Homo sapiens: one gene and its partners. The protein of the gene in region 4 purifies or fractionates together with the protein of the main gene of each other region. This does not show direct contact. Each region holds a gene or a part of one and is shown on either strand. Other genes may lie near its edges.

Region 1 (3,500 bases), on a different chromosome or scaffold from region 4:
AAAAGAAGAAGAGGCAGCTGCAAGCTCTTACAGGGAGGAAAATAAATCCTCCCCACGAGGCTAGCCCATGTCCTTAGGGAAAAGCCCATCAAGCCTACTTTTGCTCATTGACTCTTAACGTGCCATTTTATGGACCAAGAAGCAGTGCCCAGGGGCCACTGGGACAGCAGCAGCAAGAGCTTTGGGACAAGCTGGCCTTTCATCAGGAGGAGAAACTGGTAGAGGAAATGACAAGAGTGTTTATGCCTCCGGCAAAAGGACTGGTGAGGGCCACTCCGCTCAGGCGCCCTGTCCCCGGCTCTGGTGCCAACCTCTGCCCCCCATTCCAGGCCCTGGTGGGCTGCCTTGGGGGAGGGGTAAGGAAAGGAGGGACAGAGGAAGCTCCATCCGCTCCAGGCCGTGGCCAACTGGTTCTGAGGCAGGCCTGGGTCAGAGGCCGCAGGAACTTCTAGGTTGCCCAGAAAGGACTTGGTTTCCTACGTCGGGGATGGGGCAGTGTCTCTGAGTAGCCCCAACAAGGCTGGGCTTCTGGGCTCCCACACAGGGCCACACGCGTGCTGCACTCAACTTCCGGGGCCTGTGTGGGCGCTAGGTCTTGGAGACTGGGCTGAGAAGGGTGGAGGACAGTGTGGGGCGTGGGGCATGGGGCCAGGAGGGCGAGGGGTGGGGGCCTCACCCCTGAGCCACAGTAGCGCCCCAGCCTGGGGGCTGTGCTGTCGTAGCCGTCGAAGAGCTCCATGTAGTCATAGCCGCAGTCGGTCTCCTCCTCCACCTCAAAGGTCTGGAACACGAGCTCCACGCCGTAGCCTTCCTCGGCCACAATGACCCACTCACAGTCCACACCCCCAGGGTAGTTGTTGTCGCCAAACTGGGCGTGGGAGTAAAGGTCCTTGGTCTTCACGTCTGCCCGTACCTGGCCCCCGCACTCTGTAGGGGACAAGAGGGGCCAACCAGCCCTGAGCACCGCAGGTGCCAGGCCCCATGGCACACTATGCCATGGCGTGCCCTCACGGCAGGATGGAGGCCTGGGTGAAGGCCACGAGGCCAGTGATGGGTGGGTGGGGGCCTGGCCCAGAACATTGCTGTGCTGCCCCATCTCTAAATAGAGGGACCTTGGCCCTAGGCTGAGGGGAACAGGCAGTGAGGCTCACCGAGAGGAAGACAGCATGGAGCGGTGGCACGAGGCACCACACACTTTGTCTAAAGAGGGCATTGCTCATTTTCTCCAGCTGATGGCTGTCATGGAAGAATGTGGGCCCAGTGTCGCCACAGCTTCCATTTTCAAGAGAGAAGCCGTACATCTGGGTTTTATGTGAAAACTCCTAACTTTTAAGTGTTGGCTCACATTTTTAAAAAAAACACAGTGTGGGCCAAACATAGCAGGTCTGAGGGCCAGATGGAGTTCCGGGCCTCCGGTTTGTGACCCTGTGCTGGGAAGGGCAGAGGACAGTGCATGGGGCCACCCTCCTCCCCAGGCCCTCTGGCTTTTGTGCACCTGGCACTCAGGTCTCGCTAGAGGAGGTGGGGAGAGGGAAGGACGGGGCTGGGTCAGGGACTGAGTTGAAGGGGAAGAGGGGAGGCTGTGGACCATCAGCTCTGGGGATGCCCTGACAGGTGGCTTAGGACCCAGGAGGAGACTGCAAAGCTCCCTCGTGGCATCCTTGGTCTGGCACTCAAGGCATCCCCCTGGACTCCAGCCTTTCTCTGCAGCCACATCATTCCCACAACCTGCTGTCCTCACACACCCATTGCTTCGGCCAAAGTAAATGACCTGCTGTCACCTGGGCACACTCTGGGCTGGGCTGGGGTTGTGTCTCTGCCTGGGCACCTCCCCCTGCCTCGAATGCCTCTACCAACACATGCCCAGTTAGGCCGGGGTGCCTTTCTTCCTGCCTGGCTCCCGCTTGGGCTCATGCTGTCACGGGCGGTGCCTGCCTTGTCTCTCTCCTGGACTGCGAGTTCCTAGTATGGGGTGGGGGGCAGGAGTGAAGGGCTCATGCCTGATTCAGGCCACGTGCCCCTTAGTCCTCTCGCAGAGCGGAGCTCAGTTCATGGCTGCTAAATAAACAAGCAAGTGAAAGCCGAGCAAGCCCCTCAAGGGCTGGGATCTTTGCTTGGTCTGTTTCTGGGACCTGCATTTAGGATGCCGCCTCATCCATGTTACATGTCAATAAGTATCAGGAGAATGGGCTGGGCACGGTGGCTCACGCCTGTAATCTCAGCACTTTGGGAGGCCAAGGCGGGCGGATCACCTGAGGTCAGGAGTTTGAGACTGGCCTGGCCAACATGGCGAAACCCTGTCTCTACTAAAAATACAAAAATTAGCTGGGCATGGTGGCAGGCTCCTGTAATCCCAGCTACACGGGAGGCTGAGGCAGGGGAATCGCTTGAACCCAGGAAGTGGAGGTTGCAGTGAACCAAGATCGAACCACTGCACTCCAGCCTGGGCGACAGAGCAAGACTCCATCTCAAAAAATAAAAAATAAATAAAAATAAAAATAAAAAAATAAATATCAGAGAATGAATAGAGTATATTTCAGGGTTGGTGTGTGGCTGGGCTGCTGCGGTGGCCCGCGTACGCTCAGGGGGACCTCTGGGGGCTTTCCTCTCTGTCCCTGAGTTCCCTCACCTCTCCTGTCCATCGTCATCACTGCCATCCTAACCCCTAACCACACCCTCCTATCCCTGCCCCCCAGGCCTGGTTCTCAGGACACAATGTTTGCATCACCCACAACCCTGGCCCTGGGTCGCAGGGCTCAGTCCCTCTGTACCTTCATACCCGCATTGAAACCCCCGACTCTACCCCAGTCTTGGAGACCAGGCTCAGTGAACACTCCCACAACCGGGGACAGTACCTGTGGCGTGGGAGGCCTGGAAGCCCTTTCGCTGGACCGAGTTATCTGAGTAGAAGCGCAGGAACATGCGGCTGCCTGTGGCCAGGACGGGCTCGGGCTTCTTGCTCCCACAGAAGCGGCCGAGGACGGGGGCCTTGGCGTCTCGCCCGTCGAACACCTCTAGGTGGTCGTAGGCACACTCAGGCTGGGACTCGATGTCCATCTCCATGAAGGTCTAGGGGGATGAGGAAGGAGCACAGATTAAAAATTTGGCTGGAAGGCAGGTGGGGCAAGGATGAGGGCCCCAAACCTAGGCCTCACAGATACCCATGGGAGCAGCCACAGCTGGGGATGACAGTGAAGGAGGGCCCAGGAATAGGGCGAAGGCAGGGACGCCCCTAATTTATACTGGGAAAGGGGCCTCTGTCCAGGCCAGACTTGGGGTCTCCTGGGGATGGCAGACCTCTGGGCTCAGCCTGCAGCCTGTGTGGCTCTGGGCAGTGCCTCTGACCGGGGGCAGCCACACCGCATAAGGAGTGGGGAGGGGACCCCTTACCAGCTTGACCCGGTGCCCGGGGGTGCTGGAGATGGCCCACGTGCACTCCTTCTTGCTGGGATACTTGTCAGGCCAGTTGGGGCTGGTGATGGTACCACTGGTGGATGTCA
Region 2 (3,500 bases), on a different chromosome or scaffold from region 4:
TGTGAGTTTACTGAAAAGAAGTGCAAGTTCATGGCTAGGGTTGAAATGTCCCCTACAGCTTCTGTCCCATGGCTTCCATGAAGCCACTGGAAGATCTGGGAAGTGAAAATAAAGTCGTCAGAGACAGTTAAAACATCTCTACACTCCTCAGACCTGGCTGTTTCCTCGCCTCATTTCCATGTCTCCTTCCCAGAAACCGTTTTAAGGAGGGGAAAGGTTGTTGGTACCTTGATGCCTATGAGGATGGGTTGGTCTCATAGTAAATGCATGCTACATGCTGTAAATGCAAACCTTGAGCATTTCAGGCTCTTGGTATTCAAAGTGGGGTCCAGAGCCAGCAGCACTGGCGTCCCCTGGGAGCTCATTAGGGATGCACACTCTCAGGCCCACCCTGGACTTTGGGGCACAAGTCTGCATTGTAACAGGTTCCCAGGTGACTCCAGGGTGTGCACATTCAAGTTTGGGGAGCACTGTTTTTGGCCATTCTCTGCTCCTGGAGCAGTAAGGTTGCATGCTCCACCTTGCAAAAGGACAACATTTTATAAGTCATTTCAAGTGGGGTGGGGAGTTAGGAGTGGCAGTGTCTAGGACTAATTCTCACCTGGAATAAGGACAGGCTCTGATGGGTTAAATACCTTTTGATTTGCATTGTAGTTGCTTTAAACCGGCTTCAGCTGAATCTCTTCCTGCAGGTAATCACGTGCACACACACACCACCTTCCTGAGCTCTTTGTGCCTTTCTCTCAGAAGGTTAGCTTTTCTGGGAGGGACCTTTCTGTTGAGCTCTTGGCCACCCCGACAGGTTCACCTTGCAGATGCAGAAAGCAGAGTGGACGCGGCAGCCTTAAGCAGCGGGGCTGCGTGAGCTCCAAGAACTTTCCTGTGGGCTTTCTTGGGAGCCTCAAGTTGGAGCTGGAGTCTCCTTGGTTTACAAACCCCCGTGGTGTGAGCGTACAGAGCAGGCGGGTCCACTCATTGTGCTCCAAAAGTGAGTGTGACATGTTTGGTCAGCAGCAGGCTTCAATTTGGCTCTACGGGGATTGCAGAATTGGTGTGTAAGTTATCTTTAAATTGGCCGATTGTTGAGCATAAGTATAAATTTCCTCTGTTTGTTTGGGAAGGACGGTCCTTAGTAAGGATGTGATGGCCAGCCAGTGGCTCCAGTTTCCCGTGGAGGTGGATGCTGGCCCTTCTCTCGGGCCAGCTGTGCACCACCAGCCCATCCAGCCATCTGGACTATATCCGTCAGTTCAGTCTTCCACTCGCTAATCTTTAGCTGGTACTTGTGGCTGGAATGATTCTCAGTGTGGTCAGAAATCATCCATCCTGTGGGTATGGGATAGAGCGGAGCTGCAGGAATCTGCCCTGACTGGCTGCTGTCTTTCAAAGACTTGCTTTCATGTGTACGTTCTTAACAATGAACACCGGTGCACAGCTGGGCATGGCGGCACACTTCTATAGGCACAGCTACTCTGAAGGCTAAGGCAGGAGGATCACCTGAGCCCGGGAGTTCCAGACCAGCCTGGGTAACGTAGCAAGACCCCTGTCTCAAAAAAAAAAAAACAAAAAACAAAAAAACGGAAAGAAAACCTACACACAAATGAGGCCCTGGCCTTGGCTAGTGATATAAATCAGACCACCCTGATACTTACCCACTGCAGAGACCACAGGGAGCTCTGACAGGACACCCACAAGCTGCTACCAGCTTCCTGGACGTAACCCTTTCCACCTATTCTGTCTTCACGCAGAGTTCATGGTCCTATCCCTCTTTGCAAATTTAGCTCTCTCTGCAAGAAGGGTACCTCTTCAAGTATGTTTTCCAGAAAAATCATTCTTTTCCCCACCAGACCAGCTCTTTCAACCCAGAAAAATTAAAGTTGTAAATTCTTCCATCATCTGTAATCTCAGTGTCATTTGCAGCACTGCTAGCTCTCTTTGATCCTAGGCCATTGCGATGGAAATGACAGGCATGGCTCTGGAATAGAGCAGCTTGTGTTGGGACCCTTGATTTTCCTGTGAAGAACAGAGGAGTCTTTCTGGCCCCTTCCCCTCGTATGATCCTGTGATTCTGCAATTTTAAGGCTGCTGCTACAGGCAAAGGCACACCATTAAAATCCAAACAGAGCCCCCAAAACCATGCTCTCAGCAGCATCCAGATGGTCTGAATGCAACCTTCTTATCCCTTTGAAGGAACATTTGGGAGATGGGACTCTAGGTTCGGGGGGAGACCCACCCTACGAGGTTCTGCTGCGGGGCTAAGCCTTGTTCCTCTTGTCCCTCCAGGGCCGGCAGGGCCTGGGCTCCATTTTCGTCTGGGCATCTGGGAATGGCGGGAGAGAGGGGGACTACTGCTCGTGCGATGGCTACACCAACAGCATCTACACCATCTCCGTCAGCAGCGCCACCGAGAATGGCTACAAGCCCTGGTACCTGGAAGAGTGTGCCTCCACCCTGGCCACCACCTACAGCAGTGGGGCCTTTTATGAGCGAAAAATCGTAAGTTCTCTTGGCAAGTTGGAGTGCTTACAGTGAGTGCCTCAGCCCTCTGGGAATGAGTTTCTTCTCCCTTTCTCAGAAAGATGGCTTAGATTGAGGCCAGATTGTTCCGGATCCCAGGGTCCCAGCCTCACCCATCGGCGAACAATTTGAGCCTGGAGGTAAACCCCAGTCCCTTGGCAGCCTTCCTCGGACACTGGCTTTCTAATCTTTGCACAGAAATAGCAGTTAAACCCCTCTCTGGCTTTAGAGATCTAAAAATATTATTTAAGAACGAGGTTCCTTCTCATGATGTCTTGTTTTAACTCTGAAATTCTGTGGTCACATGTCTTGGAATCCAATGAACCCATCCAGTTCCAGCGTGTACAACAGAGTAAGAGAAAGACTTGGTTTTATACTGAGACATTCTAGAAATCCAGGAGTTCTTCTAGGCATTCTGTTGCTACAGAAGCACTTTTTCTGGACACTTTAAGTCGAGCAGTGGTTTCTGTCTGTTCCGCTTACTTAAGTGAACATAAGCATGATTTGTCTTTTAAAAGGTAACTGTTTTAGTACTCAGGTAGAATTTGTGCTTTTTCCTTCCCTACATACTTTCCTACTTAAAAAAAAAAAAAAAAAGAGGAAGGGAGGGTTTCCAGTTCAAATTAATGCAGAATTGAAGTGCAAAGTCATTACGTTGACTTGTAGACATTTTAAAAATGAGACTGTGGAGCTGGCCAGACATGGTTAAATTTTAAAGCTCACTAGCATCTTTTCATTTCTGCGGCTGCTCAGCCACATCTTTCGAAGTTATTTGCAAATTTATTTTTACACTTTTCTGTGGGAGCATACAGGCTTCCTGTTCTCGGCTTTGCTCCGCACCAGTGAAAGGTCAGCTGCCATCGTTCTGTCGCCAGCCTGGTAGCAGCTCGGCCTGGTTAACTAAGGTATTAATTTGTTATTTTCCTTTTCTGCTGGAGTACGCACCCCTGGGACGGGCAGCTGAGATGCTGAATGGTGTCCTG
Region 3 (3,500 bases), on a different chromosome or scaffold from region 4:
TATGGGTCCTGAAACTCCACGGGTCTTGGGTCTCTGTGACCTTTCTTCAACCTGGAGCTCAGACCCTTTGTCTTTCTGGGAGCTTAAGTTACCTGCATAGAAGCTTCGCAAATCGGTGTCCAAACAGTTCTCCAGGAAGCGCCTCAGAGGTAGGATGTGCCCGATCGGGGCAGTCCAGTCTGTTAAGAAGTCTTCCACGATGTGATGGATGGCCGTGGGCCGAGGCAGGGGCCAGTGTGCAGGGCGGAACCTCACCTCCTGTTCTGTGGGGAGGAGAGAGGGGGCCATGTCAGAGCTGTGAGGCTGGGCTTCCCCTCCTCGGGCCGACACAGCACGGATCCCACACAGCCCAAACACTTCCCTCGTTCACTCGTGCTCGGCTTTCCCGACAGCCTCCTATGCTGGGCTGTGGTCAGACTGTTCAAGAGCCACCTGCAGATATTTGAAAGGCTGCCATGAGGAAGAGGAACTAGGCTTTTCCCTTGTGGTTTCGGAAGGCAGTGCTGAAGCTAACAACGTGAGGCTGGCGTTTCCCTAAGACTCACATGGACTGAGATCTACTGTGGCTGCTTTTTATTTTGTATTATTATTTGTTGGAGACAGTCTCGCTCTATTGCCCAGGCTGTCATGCAGTGGCACAATTTAGGCTCACCGCAACCTCTACCTCCTGGGTTCAAGCGATTCTTGTGCCTCTGCCTCCAGAGTAGCTGGGATTACAGGTGCCCGCCACCACACCGAGCTCATATTTTACATTTTTCGTAGAGATGGGGTTTCTAGTCTCTACCATGTTGGCCAGGCTGGTCTCAAACTCCTGACCTCAGGTGACCCACCCGCCTCAGCCTCCCAAAGTGCTGGGATTACAGGCATGAGCCACTGCGCCTGGCTGTGGCTGCTTTCAAACTGGCCTTTCTCTGAGAAGACTCAGATAGAGGCGAGGGGTCTCAGCACTCATCTAGTTCAGCTTCTCCCTGGTGTGGGCTCCCTTCTGTGGTGTTCCAGTCAGATGGCCATCGAGTCAAGACTTGGCCGTCGCTATTCTGGGAAACCTGAATTTGGAGGTGACCAATTCCCCCACTGAACAGCTTTAACTCTTAGTGCCTCCTTTTTCTTTTTTTTTGAGACAGAGTCTCGCTCTGTCTCCCAGGCTAGAGTGCAGTGGCACAATCTTGGCTCACTGCAGCCTCTGCCTCCTGGGTTCAAGCGATTCTCCTGCCTCAGCCTCCCTAGTAGCTGGGACTACAGGCGCACGCCACCACGCTGGCTAATTTTTGTATTTTTATTAGAGACGGGGTTTCACTATGTCGGCCAGGATGGTCTCGACCTCCTGACCTCGTGATCCGCCCGCCTCGGCCTCCCAAAATGCTGGGATTACAGGCGTGAGCGACCGCGCCCGGCCTTTTTGTTTGTTTGTTTGTTTTTTTTGAGACAGAGTCTTGCTCTGTAGCCCAGGCTGGAGTGCAGTGGTACAATCTCGGCTCACTGCAACCTCTGCCTCCCGGATCCCGGTTCAAGCAATTCTCCTGCCTCAGCCTCCTGAATAGCTGGGATTACAGGCATGTGCCACCATGCCCAGCTAATTTTTGCATTTTTTTCATGTTTTTTTAGAGATGGGGTTTCACCATTTTGGCCAGGCTGGTCTTGAACTCCTGACCTTATAATCCGCTTGCCTTGGTCTCTCAAAGTGCTGGGATTACAGTCATGAGCCACCATGCCCAGCCTCTTAGTGCCTCCTTATACTGACCACAGACCTGCACCCGTCACTGCTACCTGCTGACACGACTTCTGCCTTTGGGAACAACCCCTGTTTAAACCACCCTCTTCTACCTGACTGCCCTTCAAGCTCTGAAGCAGGGGGTGCGTTCCCGAGGTTGTTCACTTATTGGTAGCTACTCTGTGCCTGCAGTGGGCTGGCATTCTGTGTACACTGTCAGGTTTAACCTCATGGAACCCTACAAGAAAGGTACTGTTGTAATCCCCATTTTACAGAGGGGAGGTTGAGGCTCAGAGAGGTTAAGTAATGGTCCAAGGTCACACAGTGACAAAATGACAGGCCTAGGGATTTTGCCCAGTTTCTCTGTACTGTGTTAACCAGCTCCAGTTCCCTCTACTCTTCAGACCCCTCCCGCCCCACCACAGTCAGCCGCCTCTGGAGACCTGCAGCAGGGCCGTGTCCCTCTTACTACACAGTGCCTGGCGGAGAGCACGACACCCCCCGCATGGCCTGTGCCAGTCACGGTATGTGTCAGAATCTGGAAGCATCGTTCATCATTCTCGGACCTTCTGCCCAAGTGGTCTCTAGGCAGAGTCCCGCAGCCATCCCACCTGTCAGCTGAGCATGTGTGTGAAGGTTTCAGGGTGGGTGACAACCTTGCAGACGGTGAGGTCTGAGGAGCCCACAGGTTGGGGAAGGGCAGAGACCTGCTCACCGGTGGGGAGGTATCTATAGTAGTAGATGACAGGATGAAGAAAGTTAGACTGCCAGGCATCTTCTGTGTGCCCCACAGACCGGTCATCAAAGAAGACGTCCTTGTCGGGGCCAGAGAAATTTCTGCCATATTCCATGTTGATGACGAAGAGCCCGTGCTTTGCCTTCCTCCCTGTGAGTGTCTCCAGCTGGGCCAGCATCTGTATGGGGAACTCCTCCAGGTACTCAAAGGCCGTGGAATTCCTGGGAGAACAGCAACGCGGGGGAGGCCCTCAGTGCTGTGGCAGAGGTGAGGGGTGCAGCCCGGGGGTGAGCATGTGTGTGTGCGTGTGTATCTCCCCCTCTAAGGAGCGTCAATCAAGCAGCACACCCCTCACTTAACATTACTTTTTCAGCTCAGCTCTCACGCACATGTGGGGTAGAGACCAGAAAATTCCATGTAACCTGAATGGGATATCTGGGGAAAGAGTGTCCCAGGCAGAGAGAACAGTCAGGAAAAAGCCCTGAGGAGTATGTGAGCACTTTGTGTTCAAGGAACAGAAGAGGCCGACGTGGCTGAGGGGAGTGAACAGCAGGCAGAGGGCAGGAGAGGGGGCCGGAGGCCTTGAGAGGTCAAGGAGGGCTGCGCCTCCCATGACGAGACGTGAGGAGTCGTCTGGCCCGAGAGGTGACACTGCTGGTTGCTTGGGAGGACTGAGCAGAGCTGGGATCAGCATGCCTCAGGTTTCTAAGGACCACTCTGGTTACTGTGCTGAGAACAGACGCCAGGCCAAGTGGGGCGGCTGTTGTATGGGTGCAGGTGATACAGCCTGGTGATCGGGACCGAGGTGGTGGTGGTAGAGCAGGTGAGAGCTGGTTGGGCTCCAGACATCATCTGAAGGCAGAGGTGACAAGACTTGCCCATGGTTTGCATGTGGGGTGTTGAGACAGGGGTGCCAGGCGTGCTGACTCACGCCTGTAATCTCAGCACTTTGGGAGACCAAGGCGGGTGGATCACCTGAGGTCAGGAGTTTGAGACCAGCCTAGCCAACATGGTGAAACCTAGTCTCTACTAAAAATACAAAATTAGCCAGGT
Region 4 (3,500 bases):
TTGGAAATGATTATGGAGGAAGGCGAGAGGCGCTTCAACTGCTTCTCCATTTATAATACTTATGAACTGTTTCCCTGAGGCCCATGCCAGCTAGAAAGGGGAGAGTCTGTGTCTGGATGGTGAGCATGGAGGAAAAGGGCAAGAGATCCCTGCCCCGATTCTGCCTGTTACAAAGATAAGAAAAGAGTTCTATATCCTTGCTGTTTTCTAGACTAACTGGCAAGTTAGAATTTGAGGATGCAGATGCAGCTGAACAAGTGCAGATGTCCTGTTAGTACCCTCTTCCCCTGGAAGGGAAACATGTAGGGGCAGTCTCTTCTCTGACCACATTGGTGATGCGGGTAGGAAGAACCCTGGGCATTGGGGTTGAGGACAGCTTTTCCCTCCGGAGCCAGATGGCCTGGTGCCGGCACACTGCCCTGCTAGCTGCAGAGCCTGGGGCAGGCTGCTTGCCTCTCTGAGCCTCAGTGACTGTAACCAGGTTAGCTCCTTCCTAGGGCTATTGGGAGGATTTGATCTAAGAGGGAACTTTAGCAGAGGGACTCAGGTAGGTGGGAGTTGCTCAAATCTGGATTTTCTAAAATTCCTCTTTGGAGGCTGGTTGGAAGTATGGAAAAGCCTGACTCCAGGCAGGACTTCCCTTTGATCTTGAGAGCCTGTGCCTAAATCCCTTGCTCACAGAGGCCTTTTGGTGCTGTGTACACCTGCAGGAATAGAGCAGAATCTCTTCTGTAGTTTTCTCTAGAAAAACTGTACCCCAGAGTAGAGGAAAATACTCCCTCCAAGGCACATCTTTAAAGCATCCTTAAAGAACCAGAGCATGGAAATAGCAAGAAAGAAAACTCTGCTCTTATAAGAAACTTTAAGTTAAAAGCCACACACAGGAACTGCAGAACCTCTGAGTGTGCCCGACCCTCAGCTGAATACAGCTGCTTTATGAGGGCTTCATCATTTAATATACTCTTAGAGGCTCTTGCACAGGCTCTCTCTGCAGTGGGAGGGTTCATAAAGTGGCTTTCTTCCTTGGGTGAGGGTGAATGGGTGCATCTCCAGCAACAACTTGCAAAAACGAATCATTTCTTTCTGCAGAGAGGTGCTTGATGGCGGATTATAGAAAGGTATAAATAGTGCTACAAGACATTTGGGGTCTTGATGGCTTAGAGACAGGCTTGGTCGTCTGGCAGTGGTAAGTTTACAGAAGATATTGGGGGCTCTCTGAAGTGAATACGGATGGGGACTGACCATGCTGGGCCGAGGTCTGCAGTTGAGGCCATGGCTCTTATTATTGGGTGGTTGTTTTAGGTAGTGGCAAACCATGGCAATCAGGAAGCCTTGTCTCGTTGTGGGCTCCCCACACAGATGCTCTGGGGGTTCCTAAAGTATTATGGGCTGTGGTTAGATGGGAATGTGGAAGAATGGTGCACTGAAACAAGACTTGGCTTTACATTTAGTCTGACTTTGCCAGTTCCTAGCTGTGTGACATTGGTCAGTGTCTTCACTTCTCTGATCCTCATCTATAACATAGGGGTTAAGACCACTGGGACTAGATTTTTGTGTCTAGCAAGCAGAGGGTGCTCAATTTACTGCTACTGTTTCTTTCTTTCCTCTGCTGTCTTTACCTTAAGGATGGGACTTCCTGACCTTTCTGGGCCACTGAGGGCATTAGGAGCTGGGTGCCTTCAGTATAATAGAGTTATTGACCCCAAGCAATGAGGACTAGGCTCTGGGTCTGTTTTACTGGACCTTCTCTGTTCCTTCGTGATGGGGTCCAAATCCAGCATGGGAGTGGAGGAGACAGAGAAATGAGCAGGTCCCATGCTGGGCAATGCTGCCCCTTGCAGGGCTGAGCTGGAGCGGGGAGTGCCTTAGAGGCATCATGGGCCAGTCTCACCTGATGTGGTTGATGATGAGGTTTGTTGGGGGAATGAAGAAATCATCCACTCCTGCAAAGGGTGTGCGGATGAGGTGCTGGCTCTGGCCGGTGCTGGCTTCTGTGATCACCTACAACACAGAGTGGGAATCCTAGTGAGGGCCCATGCAGGTGGGGGCTGAACCTGGAGACACCTGTACGCTCAGGTGGAGTCACCCCGGCAGAGGGGTGCTTGGGAGAGAGATGACTAACAAACCTCAATCTCAGGGAAGAGGCAGGAGCAAAGTGGGAGCAGTTCAGGCACATCCTAGGCAGGGACCCATTCTTCCTGAAAGAGGAAGTGGTGGGACAGGACTGATTGCCCGAATTGCTTCTGCCCCATGGTTAAGCCTGCCTTGCTGCACTTTGTCAGCCACCATGATGGCAGAGTGAGAACCTGAGGGGTGGTGGTGGGGTTTCCAAGGGAAGTAAGTCTCCAGAATGGAAACATCACTGTGGTTGCTCAGAGACCACCTCCTCTCGTAATGGGGAATCCTACCTTCTCAACATGTAAGCCAGGCTAGGGAAAGTGGGAGAGGGCTGTCAATCATGAAAATGTCACGTGGTGGAACTGTCTACTGGGAGTTCATTTTTCTCTGGTGCCAGATGCCTGGGCCAGTTTGTTGGTAGTCTCTGTCGGATGCTGCTCACAGGCATTCTCTGAGGTGCGACTCCAGGACTGATGAGAGAAAGCAGACATCCTACGGGATGCCACTCTGACATGCTGGGCTGTTGAGATGTCTTGCATTTAGAATGCTGGGAAGAGGTCCTGGTCTCACACAGGAGACTTGCTGTAGAAAGTCAACAATTAGGCCCTGTGCCTTGTACAAATTGGTAGTGACAGAGCACGGCTGCCTCTGTTTCCCTGGAGGTAACGCTTTCTCCCCTGTGGACTTGGCAGGAGACAAGAGCCTTTCCCTGGTGTGTGTCCCAGCTGCACTCATGTCAGGGAAGGCACAATGGCAGCTCTGAGCAGAAGCCAGGTGGTGTGTGAAGTCAGATAGGATGAGTGAGTGGTCTGGAGTCCCTGCCATGAAACCCCTGTGGTCAGGCTGGGCAGCCCCTCTGTCAGCTAGTGAGGCCCAAGCCAGCCAGACTGTGTCCTCCTGCCTTCTGCATATGCTCATCAGCCTTGAAGTTCTAGGCCACTGCCCAGAAAGCAGCAGACCAGTGGTCCGATGAGGGGCTTAGCCAACTTACAGGCCCCGAGAAGCCCAGACCCTCTGTGCAGGAGAGGAGGCAGATGCTGGGCCCCTGAACGGGAATGTGAGACACTTTTTCTAATCATGATATTGTGGCCACATGTGTAGAAAGGAGGGTCTAGATTTCTGCAGCCTGAGGCTTGGCCTGCAGGGTGAGAGCTGACTCTGGTGGGGGCTTGTGACTCCCATGGCTGAGAGCTCTGGATGCTTCTACTTTTTAGGAATGGAGCTGCCTTCTGGCTTTTACTTTTATGACAAAACAAACAGCACCTGGCCTGCCTCCTCAGGCAGGCTGGAGGCTTGTGTCTTTTTTCGTCTTGCTTTCCTCTGCAGTCAGCAGGCAGAGTGCTGGGCTGGAGTGATGCAAGCCATGATTTTCAGGTTTGAGG
Region 5 (3,500 bases), on a different chromosome or scaffold from region 4:
AGGGTATCAGGTAATAAAAGACTACACTATCTTAGTGAATAATGTGTCACTTTAAAGTGGGAGTAGAAGAGCTGTTGAATGTGAGTAGCATAGGCACAGGAGGAGAAAAGGCATATCTTTGGTTATACGTAGGAGGGGATTCCAATGTGGCTGGCACTGGATCCTGACAGACAGCTGATTCTGCTCTGTAGTGGGCGAGAGTATATGGTGAAACATGGATTGGAGTTCATTTATAATCCAAAGGATTAGTTTAGACTTCTCTATTAGAATCTGTTAGAATTTCTTTCTTTGGGCTTCCCTGAAAGAAACTTAGAAAAGGATGAAGCAAGTCACGGGAGGAAGATTCAGTGATACTGACCTATCTATTCCGGAACTGTGTCTGTGAGCTCAGGTTGTCCATAGCCTGCTGCAATATGTCTAAAGATTGATCACTATAAGTTTTCTCAGGTTCTTTTTTCCCCTTGTCGGTCTTACATTTCATAGTCCTTTAGCCCTCAAGGGGCTAGAAGGCAGTTTATGACCTCTGCTACTGCATAGATGTAAGACTAAAGGTTCCAGATAATTGAAGTTCTCCTGACCTGAAATGTAAACTCTGTACAGTGGCTTTGCTGTATTCTTTCACATCCCTTTGAGTCTTTGAAGGTGAGGCGGGCCACACTAGCTGCTGTTTTCCAGATCAGGGCATGCCATTGTTTGACCTGCCACCATAAAACAGTTGTACATTCCTTTGTCTGTCTTTTGAGCTTAGGCCTCCAGACTAACCACATCAGGTCTCCCTAGTGATTTGTCTGCCCCCACCTGGGCAAGACCAAAAAGAAAAACTAAGCAGTTAGTGACATGCAGTGCAACCGGACGGAAATGGACTGTAGAATCGAAATTGTAGAGAGATGGAGAAGAAAATGTTTGGGGCTAGGATAAGTGTTCAGAATCTTAAAGTGAAGTTGTCTTTGTAAACCTCTAGGCAAAAACGAGCTGAGTTGAAAATTGAGTAAGAAAATTAAGCTGTTAGGTCTCCTAGATCTACCTGGAGGGCCAGGCTGCGAAAGATTGGTAGTGATTTTTGTAAGTAATACTCAGAGCAAGAATTGTTGGTCTCAGTGGCTACCTAAGTGTATTGAAAGCTGTCAGTAGCTACAAGACGAATGGACATGTATTCCTGTTTTTACAGATACTATTACAACAAGAGGATCCTTCATAAAACAAAAGGGAAAAGATTTACCTATAAATTTAACTTCAACAAGCTGGTGATGCCCAACTACCCATTCATCAACATTCGGTCAAGTGGTAAGATACAAACTCTTTTGGTAGGGAATTAATTTTGAATTGAAAAGAATTTTTAAAAATCCAAATCTAAGACATGGCATGTTTAGGAAGATTTTAGAAACACTAAAATAATGTGATCCTTTGGATTGCCTCAATGTTCTTACTCAAGTCATCTCACTTATAAGGAGAGTTATAGGCTATTCAGTATCAAGATAGATTTCTTTGGTTTATTTGGTTGGTTCCCTTTTCTGCATATTGTTTGTAATCTCCTAGATACTATTACGCTATCTTGTTTGGGAATGATGTTTCATAGGTTTGTGATGATCTTTACGTTCAGGACTCAGTTTTAACACCCAGCCCAGTGGTTCTTTCATAGATGGGAACCTGTTTCTACAAACACTTCCGATTTTCTGTGAAACTACCAAGCTCTCCCTTATCAAGTGAATATCATCAAAACCACAGCATCCTTGATCAGAGAAGGGGGAGGTTCACATGTTTGCAGTGAAAAGCAGTGTCTTTGATCTGCAACAGCAAATCCTCAGAGAAAAAGATTCTGGGGTTACTTGACCTTCTCTCCTGTTAAGTGCAGTAGGGCTTCCCCTCTTGACTTTCCTGGTTATAGCTTTCCATCACAGCTCCCCACATTCTCTCTTGATGTTGAAAGCAGTCTCTCAAAAGACTTTGTTGTTGTGTGGTTTTTTGTTTGTGATTTTTTTCCTTATGCAAATCATACTCCTGCCCAAGAAAATACAGTAGTTCCCCTTATCTGAGCAGTATATGTTCTAAGACCCCTAGTAGATTCGCAAACCACAGATAGTACCAAACTCCATTCATATATATGATGTTTTTTCTTCCCTTAACCCCACTCATATGTATCTGTGATAACGTTTAATTTATAAATTAGGCACAGTAAGAGATTAATGACAATAATAAAATAGAAAAATTATAACAATATGCTGTAATAAACTTAATGTGGTCTTTCTCAAAATATCTTTGTGTACTGTACAGACCTATTTTCAGACCTTTGTGGGTAACTAAAACAGTGGAAAGCAAAACCTCAGATAAGAAAGGACTACTGTAGATTGTATTTAACTGTTTTCTGACCAGTCCATCAGTAAGTACTCTGTCATTGTGGCCTTGTATGCTAAGGCAAAGAATGCTGATCATGCAGTAATACAACTTCTCAGAAAAGCTGGAAGAAACCTGAAAAATTAGTGGGGGTGTGGTTGAGAGAACATAATGTTGAGATCCATTGCAGATATGTAATTACTACACAACAAGTTAGGGCAGTTTTAGCTTGACTCTGCTATCATTACAGTTTCATCTCAACTTCTGTAACCACTCCCTCCTGTCCCTGGGGCATGCATTTAAAAAAAAAAAAAAAAGTGGTATTGGAATGCATCTCTCTAATTACAACCTGTTTTCTTTCCTTGTGCCTGAGGGAGAGGCGTTAGGAAATCAGACCTGTACTCGCCACTCAAATCTTGCTTCCTCTGTTTCTCACTCTTGCCCCTTCCTTGTATGCCTAGAGGAATTGGGAATCTAGATGTATATACCAACAATTTTAAAGAATTTGTTGGTTTTCATACCCCTTCACCCCACTCCCAAAAAAATGTTTCATTCGTCTTGTTCTTCTGTCTTTGACCCATTTTTATCTATTGAAAATCCAGAACTTCAGCCACTTGGACAACCTAGAATGGGGCATTCATAAGCCCTGGGAAGTAATGTGGTTTTCCAGGGCAAGGAAACCTGGATCCTCACTCTGTGAAGAATCTGATCTAGAAACCTAACAATAGTGGCCCAGCACACCTGTTCTGCCCGAAGGCGATTGAACCAACATTGATCTTTAACCCAAGCTCAAGATCCTAATCAAAAAGCCACAAGGGGCCGGGCCAGGTGGCTCATGCCTATAATCCCAACACTTTGGGAGGCCAAGGCCGGCAGATCACTTGAGGTCAGGAGTTCAAGACCAGCCTGGCCAACATGGGGAAACCCCCATGTCTACTAAAAGTACAGGTGGCAGTCACCTGTAGTCCTAGCTACTCAGGAGGCCAAGGCAGGAGAATCACTTGAACCTGGGAGGCAGAGGTCGCAGTGAGCTGAGATCATGCCACTACACTCCAGCCTGGGCGACAGCGAGACTCAGTCTCAATAAAGCACAAGGAAAGCAAAACTGTGTACATTTCTTTTAGTACATCTATCTCTACTACCTGGTTGCTCACATCCTAGGTATAGAC
Region 6 (3,500 bases), on a different chromosome or scaffold from region 4:
CAATGCCCTGATTTTGGCTCACTGCAACCTCCACCTCCGGGTTTCAAGCGATTCTGCTGCATCAGCCTCCCGAGTAGAGTAGCTGGGATTACAGGCGCCTGCCCCCACACCCGGCTAATTTTTGTATTTTTAGCCGAGATGGGGTTTTGCCATGTTGGCCAGGCTGGTCTTGAACTCCTGACCTCAGGTGATCTGGCCTGCCTTGGCCTCCCATAGTGCTGGGATTACAGGCGTGAGCCACCGGGCCCAGCTTTTAATTTAATTTTTAAATTTAAAACAATTATATGGTCCAAAGTCAAAACTATACCAAAGCTCTTTCACAGATGTGTCCCCTGCATCCTGTAACTCTCTCCCCCGCATTCTGTAACTCTCTCCCCCTATAGATAAGCATTTTTAACTAGTTTTTGGTTTACTTGTCCATTGTTTCTTTGGGGAAAAAAAAATTAATCTAGCTAGCTATATACTATGTGCATATATATGTCCTCCCTTTTTAATATCTTTTTCATTATGATTTCACTAAGATTACTGGCCATGATTTGGCTATCAAATTTGCAAGTTTTTCTCATTCCTTAAGATACAACTCTTGTAAAATAAAGGCTTGTATTCAATTACACTAGTGTCTACACTTTTTCTTAGTATTGTTCCCCCTACCTTATAAATAGGCTTAAGTTACTATTTTCAGATCTGAAGATCATTTTCCTTGATAGAGAATATGTATTCTTTTCATCTTCGGTAAATATTATACAATAAAAATGAGTTCATCTGTTCTTTTCCTTTCTTGTTCAAAATACACCACCAACAAAACCATTTTAGATTGTACTGTATGTTCCCTATAACATTACTTAACAAAATAAATCATACCTTGGAAACACTGTGCTTTCTGTAAAATGTGGTGGTCCATTCACCATGTACAGTCCTTCTGATCCTCGGACTAAAGAAGTAAAATAAAAAGAACCACAATTACTTTGTTAATAAAGACTCAGTTAACACAAATGTGTTTTTTAAAAAAGCAGCTTTAGTCAAAATATTAATGAAATCATTAAATATTTCATTGAACTATAGAATATTAGCAACAAAAGGGCATATTTTCTTACTCTGTTACATAAAATCATATAATTGCTGAGAAATACGTAACTTTTTAAATAAAACTCGAAACTTTGTCACCACTGAAAGAAAGGCAGCTGTCTTGTGGTAAAGAGGACATGAATTCAGAGCCTGACCTAAGTTTATAACTGCCTGTGGAACCTTGGATACGTTACCACCTCTGAATCTGTGACCTAATCTGTAAAATGGAAATATCAGAACACAGGATAGCTGTATGCTTTATATAAAGTAATAAAAAAAGTATATGTTTAAAGTTTTTAGAAATATAAGGCAATATTAATATATTCACAATTTATCAAACTAAGAGAACAAGTGGAATGAGACATATTCATTTATTAAGGCCCCAATGACAGTAATAGCCTAAAAAATTAAGTGGAAACAAAGTTCAAGATTAAATAATCATCTACAGAACTAGACTATACTTCTTATTTCTATGTTTAAATTTATTTATTTTTTTGAGACAGGGTCTTGCTGTCACCCAGGCTGGAGTACAGTGGCATGATCAAGGCTCACTGCAACTTCAAACTCCTGGACTTAAGTGATGCTCCTGGCTCAGTTTCCCAAGTAGCTGGGACTACAGGCATGTGCCACCCTGCTTGGCTATTTTTTTTTTTTGTAGAGACAGAGTCTCACTGTTGCCCAGGCTGATCTCTAACTCCTGGGCTAAGGCAATCCTCCCTCCTCAGCCTCACAAAGTGCTGAGATTACAGGTGTGAGCCACCGCACCTAGCCTAGACTATACTTTTTTAAATGGTTGAATTAAATGCTTCTAAAGCTGAACCAAATAAATAGATTCATTTAGTCAACAAATGCTTAGTGGGAAAAAAACGAACAAACTACCTCCTAGGCCCTGTGTTGAACATTGGCGAAATAATAGGAAAGAAAATCAGCCTTGTCTCTGACCTCATTGAACTTTGCAAACAGTAATCAAATAATTGGCCAAATATACGGAATCATATACCTGTGTTTAGTCCTTCAAAGGAAAGGTATATGGTACCACTGAGGGTATAAAAGAGAGTTTTAACCTAAAAATGGAAGGTTAGGGAAAGCATCCTTAAGTGTTTTGTATACTGAGATGTAAAGGATCAATGGCAGTTAACAAGCAAGGAGAACAGTTAACAAGTGCAAAAACCCCATGGAAAGAAAAACGACAGAGCGTCAAGGGGATGGAAAGAAGGCCTGTGTGGCTAGAGGATGATGAAGCTGGAAAACAAAATAGGGCTCAGGCTAGGCGTGGTGGCTCACACCTGTAATCCCAGTACTTTGGGAGGCCGAGGCAGGCAGATGGCTTGAGCCCAGGAATTCAAGACCAGCCTGGGCAACATAGGGAGATGCTGTCTCTACAAAAATTAGCTGGGCACGGTGGCACATGCCTGTAGTCCCAGCTATTCGCACGGCTGAGGCAGGAGGATCACCTGGACTTGGGAAGTCAAGGCCACAGTGAACCATGATCATGTCACCCACCACCAAGCCATGTTAAGTTTTATATTTCTTGTAGAGACGAGGTTTCACTACATTGCCTAGGCTGGTCTTAAACTCCTCAGCTCAAGCAATCCAATCTGCTTCCCTCAGCCTTCCAAAGTGCTGGGATTACAGCTGTAAGCCACCTGGCCCAAACTGACATTTTGTACTTCTAAGATGCCTTGCTAGATTTAATTAGTTTTTCTATTAAATAAATTTAATAAAAGCATATACAGTTTAATTTACTCCTGATAAGCTGTGATACAAAGTTTATTAGAAAAAAACACAAAATCAGGTCCATAACAGAACATAAACTGTTTTAAACTAATAAAAGCAAAAATAAATAGGGACTAAAAAACTTCTCAATACTGAAACAATTTTTTTCTACATGTAACTTTCTAACAAGGAATCCTTTTTAGTTACAAGTATCTGTGAAACTAAATACAATGCGTAGTTAGCTTAATATAGTGTATTCTGAGTTTGTGTGATTCCCTGTTTTTAGTGATTTCCCTCTTCAATCAAATGGGATTGGCAATATGTTCTAGCAGAAAGAAAAATCTAGAATGCAAGCAGTTCTTTTAAGACAACAAATAAACGCCAGTTTCACACAGTAGCTGTGTGAAATACATTAAACATCTACATAATCTTTTCCAAGCTTACTAGCCTTTTTAGACATTCATATACTATTTATTGCTCTAGGCCTGAGTTAGAGAGAGAAAAACACAGGGCTTCAATAAACAAGGATCCCATGGCAGGGGTGTAGTCATCTTTAAAATACGATACTTTTCCCAACTCTTACATTCACTGAACTATGTATTAGTTTAGGAAAATCACTCAATTTTGAATAAATTATCTCTGTGACTTCAACTGGTCAAGCAGATTAGACAATGTGAATTTCACGTAATGGACATTGCTGTTTTATGTGCCTAGCAACC
Region 7 (3,500 bases), on a different chromosome or scaffold from region 4:
CAGACAGGCGATGGCCAGGCATGGCCAGGAATGGCCCCCAGGCTCCACTCTAGGCCTTGAGGCCCTCCTTTCAGGAAGCTGGTGGGAGGGTCTGATGAAGCGATGGTGGGGGCAGTTGGTGAGCTGGGCCTGCTGCTGCCTGAGGGCCCAATGTCATTGTGACTGCCTAGGGCATGAGAGTGGGCAGCAGCCGCACTCACCAACACGCACCCACCAACACACAGCAACACACAGCGTGGCTGTCACTGCCTTGACACTTGCCACTGACATCACTAAACAAAACCTTTTCTGGTAGCTGATAATGTATGCAGGAGTTGTTAGTACTTCCAGCCTAAGTCTCACCACCATAAACACCCTCCTGCAATAGGACAGACTCATGTTAACCAAGAAGAGGGCTGACCAAGTCCCACTCAGCAGCTCTGTGCAAAACAAGTCATGCTTCAGACAGAAACCTGAGGAGTCCCACAGTCACACATTGGTCAGTAAATGCTAGATTAAATCAAATCAGGAAGTGACAAAAGACTTTAATCCCAGCACCAACTACTAAGAACAAAAATCTCCCTTCTTGTTTTATGTTCTTTACCAAGGACCACTGTTAGAAATGTCTGAATGTTCTCTCATCCACACTGGGAAGCTACTCACAGCATTTCATTTAGAAGCTTCTCACATACACAGTGGTTTTCTGAGACAGTGGAAAGCGACGTTATGGCTACTGAAAAATAAATTCAGCTAGATAAAAGGGCTGTGATTCAGGCTCACTTCTCAGAGAAAAACGGAAATGCTACAGTGAGGTTGGTCAATTTTAATTCAGCTGTTCAGAAGCACCACTTGTGTACAGAAGAAAACATTAAAATGTATTCCAAGGAGACACAGAGAAGTCACAAGGCTTATGTCCAGTGTAAACTTATGGCTTAAAAAAGTAAATACTCAGAAGACAGCCAACACCATCATCATCAGCTGGTGCGAAGCTATATGTGAAAAGAAATCAAGCTGTTTTCAGTATCTAGATGTTCACCTCTTGGAAAAGATATATATATATATATATATTTTTTTTTTTTTTTGAGACAAGAGTCTCGCTCTGTTGCCCAGGCTGGAGTGCAGTGGCATAATCTCAGCTCACTGCAGCCTCTGCCTCCTGCGTTCAAGCAATTCTCTTGCCTCAAACTCCCGGGTAGCTGGGACTACAGGCGCGTGCCACCATGCCCAGCTAATTTTTGTATTTTTTTTTCAGTAGAGACGGGGTTTCACCATGTTGTTTAGGGTGGTCTCGAACTCCTGATCTCAAGTGATCCACCCGTCTCGGCCTCCCAAAGTGCTGGGATTACAGGCGTGAGCCACCGCGCCTGGATGGAAGATATATTCAAACCAGTGTTTGTGATTCTTCCCTTATATTCTCTTTTTTTTGGACACAGAGTCTTGCTCTGTCATCCAGGCTGGAGTGCAGTGGCGTGAACTCAGCTCACTGCAACTTCTGCCTCCTGGAGTCAAGTGATCCTCCTGCCTCAGCCTCCCAAGTAGCTGGGATTACAGGTGTGCACCACCATGCCTGGCTAATTTTTGTATTTTTAGTAGAGATGGGGTTTCACCTTGTCGCCAAGGCTGGTCTCAAACTCCTGGACTCAAGTGATCCACTTGCCTCAGCCTCCCAAAGTGCTGGGATTACAGGTGTGAGCCACTGTGCCGGCCACTTATATCCTGTTTCTAGCTTCTTTGTTTGCTTTTCGTTTTTCCTAGAAACAAGTCTCTCTAAAAATAATAATCTGTTCACAAAGCCTTTGCTGTTTTGAAAGGCTGGGAATAGAGTTTAAAGCCATTGAATCCCTCAACATTAGGATGGATCAAATGTACTGAGATCTTTCCTTTAGGAAAGGAAGAGGTGAAGATAAAAATGAACAACATTTCAGAGGCCAATGTCAAAGACAGCACCAGCTCAGTCATGTAGGGTCCTTTCCTGCTGCTGGAGGGGCTGCAGAGCTCACTGGCACTCACCAGACTCCAATGGTCACGTCTTCCTCTGGCTGCAGGTAGTAGTTACACGTGTGATTCAAACCTTGATCCTGTGGTTTTTTCAAATCAATGAAATAGGGAACTCTTACTGTAGGAAATAAAGAGATGGAAATTAGGATTACTGGTGGATGAATACACACATGTACACACAAACATGCATACTCACACACGTGCACAGATATGCATCCACACGTGCACACACACACATGCACACCCACATGCACACACTGCAGAAGCTCTCAGAAAGCACCAAGTCCTTTTCCTGTGCAATCTTACAATGGTGCCAGACCTGCAGGCCCAGCCTCAGGCAGGGTATGGGCTGAGGCCAGCCAGCATGGGCAGGGACAGAGACTGCAGTGAGGGCAAGGTCTGTGTAGAGACTGGAACGCTAAGGTCTAAGGTCATTCTAGGTGTGAGAAGATGCAAATGAGGGAAGGAAAGATCCCCAACAGGTCTGAAGGATGGGCCAGCCAGGAGGGAGGCTGGGGAGGCTGAGCCTGCGAATAACTCAGGTGCCTGGTGGAGTGGGAAGGACAGCAGGAAAGGGGATGGCGCTGCAGGACCTGATGACCAACGGAACGTTGGGTGGCAAACAAGGTAAAGGGGATTCCAAAGTTTCCAGGACTGCTGCCTAACACAGAAAAGACAGCAGAAGGTGAGGTGTGGGGCAGCGAGGGGGATGAATCCATAGGACCCATGCAGAGCAGAATGAAGTCAGTGCAATGGCCCAGCAGAAGTCCTGCATCTACCAGGTCATCTGCCAGCAGGACAGCGAGTGAATTAACCAGCACCTCACACTGTGGAAGACCATGGGGCCCTTAGACCTGGAGGAACCTCCAGGACCTGCGGGCAGATGAGAGGAGCAAGGTGACTGTGGGTGCGGGTGCGGTAGCCCCACTTTGTTATTGTAAAAACATGCAAATGAAACACGACCTCCACATGTGGCTGGGAGGATATACAGAAAGACAGAAGCCAGGCTGCTCACACAGCTTCAAAGTGTGTGTGTGGGGAGAATGGGGGCAATTTTTTCCTTATATACCATTGTAGTCTTACTGCTTTTGGTGAACACAACTTTAAAATAAGTTTAACTGAAAAACAAAAAATTTAAAATAAACGCATGAACCCTGAGGTGGGATTTGCCTGCTTTATAAAATGGCAACTCCCAAAAGAGGCAATGACAGAGAGCAGTGTGGGCCTGGCTTCCCTCTGGTGGGTCCTGCCCCCGGGGAAGCTCTGCTGCTGACAGCTGTCTCTGGTGAAGACAGGGGTTGCGTGACTCCCATGTCCATGTGGCACATTGCACATCTAGCCTCACTTCCTCAAATGTCACCAGGCTGGACTCACGAGGACATGGGGACATACACACTCCTTCCCAGAAACTCCCTGAGCGTCTGTCCCAGACCATGTGGGGAGACAGTTCCTACCACCAGGGCTGCTGTTCATACCCCACCTTCTTACTCCATCTCTTTCCCAGGAAGCAGATACATCTTCAA

Evidence for each region.
Region 1: the proteins of FSTL4 (region 4) and BMP1 purify together in Homo sapiens (affinity purification with mass spectrometry; one large-scale study listed by BioGRID and IntAct). This does not show direct contact.
Region 2: the proteins of FSTL4 (region 4) and PCSK6 purify together in Homo sapiens (affinity purification with mass spectrometry; one large-scale study listed by BioGRID and IntAct). This does not show direct contact.
Region 3: the proteins of FSTL4 (region 4) and FOXRED2 purify together in Homo sapiens (affinity purification with mass spectrometry; one large-scale study listed by BioGRID and IntAct). This does not show direct contact.
Region 5: the proteins of FSTL4 (region 4) and ETV3 purify together in Homo sapiens (affinity purification with mass spectrometry; one large-scale study listed by BioGRID and IntAct). This does not show direct contact.
Region 6: the proteins of FSTL4 (region 4) and EIF2A purify together in Homo sapiens (affinity purification with mass spectrometry; one large-scale study listed by BioGRID and IntAct). This does not show direct contact.
Region 7: the proteins of FSTL4 (region 4) and ABHD12 purify together in Homo sapiens (affinity purification with mass spectrometry; one large-scale study listed by BioGRID and IntAct). This does not show direct contact.

The regions. Positions count from the first base shown.
Region 1 is NC_000008.11:22,206,872-22,210,371, reverse strand, and holds part of BMP1 (bone morphogenetic protein 1 isoform 3 precursor), read right to left. Parts: coding exon 3,391-3,500; intron 3,070-3,390; coding exon 2,856-3,069; intron 928-2,855; coding exon 677-927; intron 1-676. UniProt on the Homo sapiens protein: Metalloprotease that plays key roles in regulating the formation of the extracellular matrix (ECM) via processing of various precursor proteins into mature functional enzymes or structural proteins.
Region 2 is NC_000015.10:101,392,208-101,395,707, reverse strand, and holds part of PCSK6 (proprotein convertase subtilisin/kexin type 6 isoform PACE4-AI preproprotein), read left to right. Parts: intron 1-2,283; coding exon 2,284-2,496; intron 2,497-3,500. UniProt on the Homo sapiens protein: Serine endoprotease that processes various proproteins by cleavage at paired basic amino acids, recognizing the RXXX[KR]R consensus motif.
Region 3 is NC_000022.11:36,493,541-36,497,040, forward strand, and holds part of FOXRED2 (FAD-dependent oxidoreductase domain-containing protein 2 isoform 1 precursor), read right to left. Parts: intron 2,715-3,500; exon of another isoform or gene 2,669-2,714; coding exon 2,427-2,668; intron 264-2,426; coding exon 93-263; intron 1-92.
Region 4 is NC_000005.10:133,200,042-133,203,541, forward strand, and holds part of FSTL4 (follistatin-related protein 4 precursor), read right to left. Parts: intron 2,002-3,500; coding exon 1,892-2,001; intron 1-1,891.
Region 5 is NC_000001.11:157,131,896-157,135,395, reverse strand, and holds part of ETV3 (ETS translocation variant 3), read left to right. Parts: intron 1-1,168; coding exon 1,169-1,284; coding exon of another isoform or gene 1,285-1,316; exon of another isoform or gene 1,317-2,251; intron 2,252-3,500. UniProt on the Homo sapiens protein: Transcriptional repressor that contribute to growth arrest during terminal macrophage differentiation by repressing target genes involved in Ras-dependent proliferation. Represses MMP1 promoter activity.
Region 6 is NC_000003.12:150,549,787-150,553,286, reverse strand, and holds part of EIF2A (eukaryotic translation initiation factor 2A), read right to left. Parts: intron 932-3,500; coding exon 862-931; intron 1-861. UniProt on the Homo sapiens protein: Functions in the early steps of protein synthesis of a small number of specific mRNAs. Acts by directing the binding of methionyl-tRNAi to 40S ribosomal subunits.
Region 7 is NC_000020.11:25,321,336-25,324,835, forward strand, and holds part of ABHD12 (lysophosphatidylserine lipase ABHD12), read right to left. Parts: intron 2,096-3,500; coding exon 1,990-2,095; intron 1-1,989.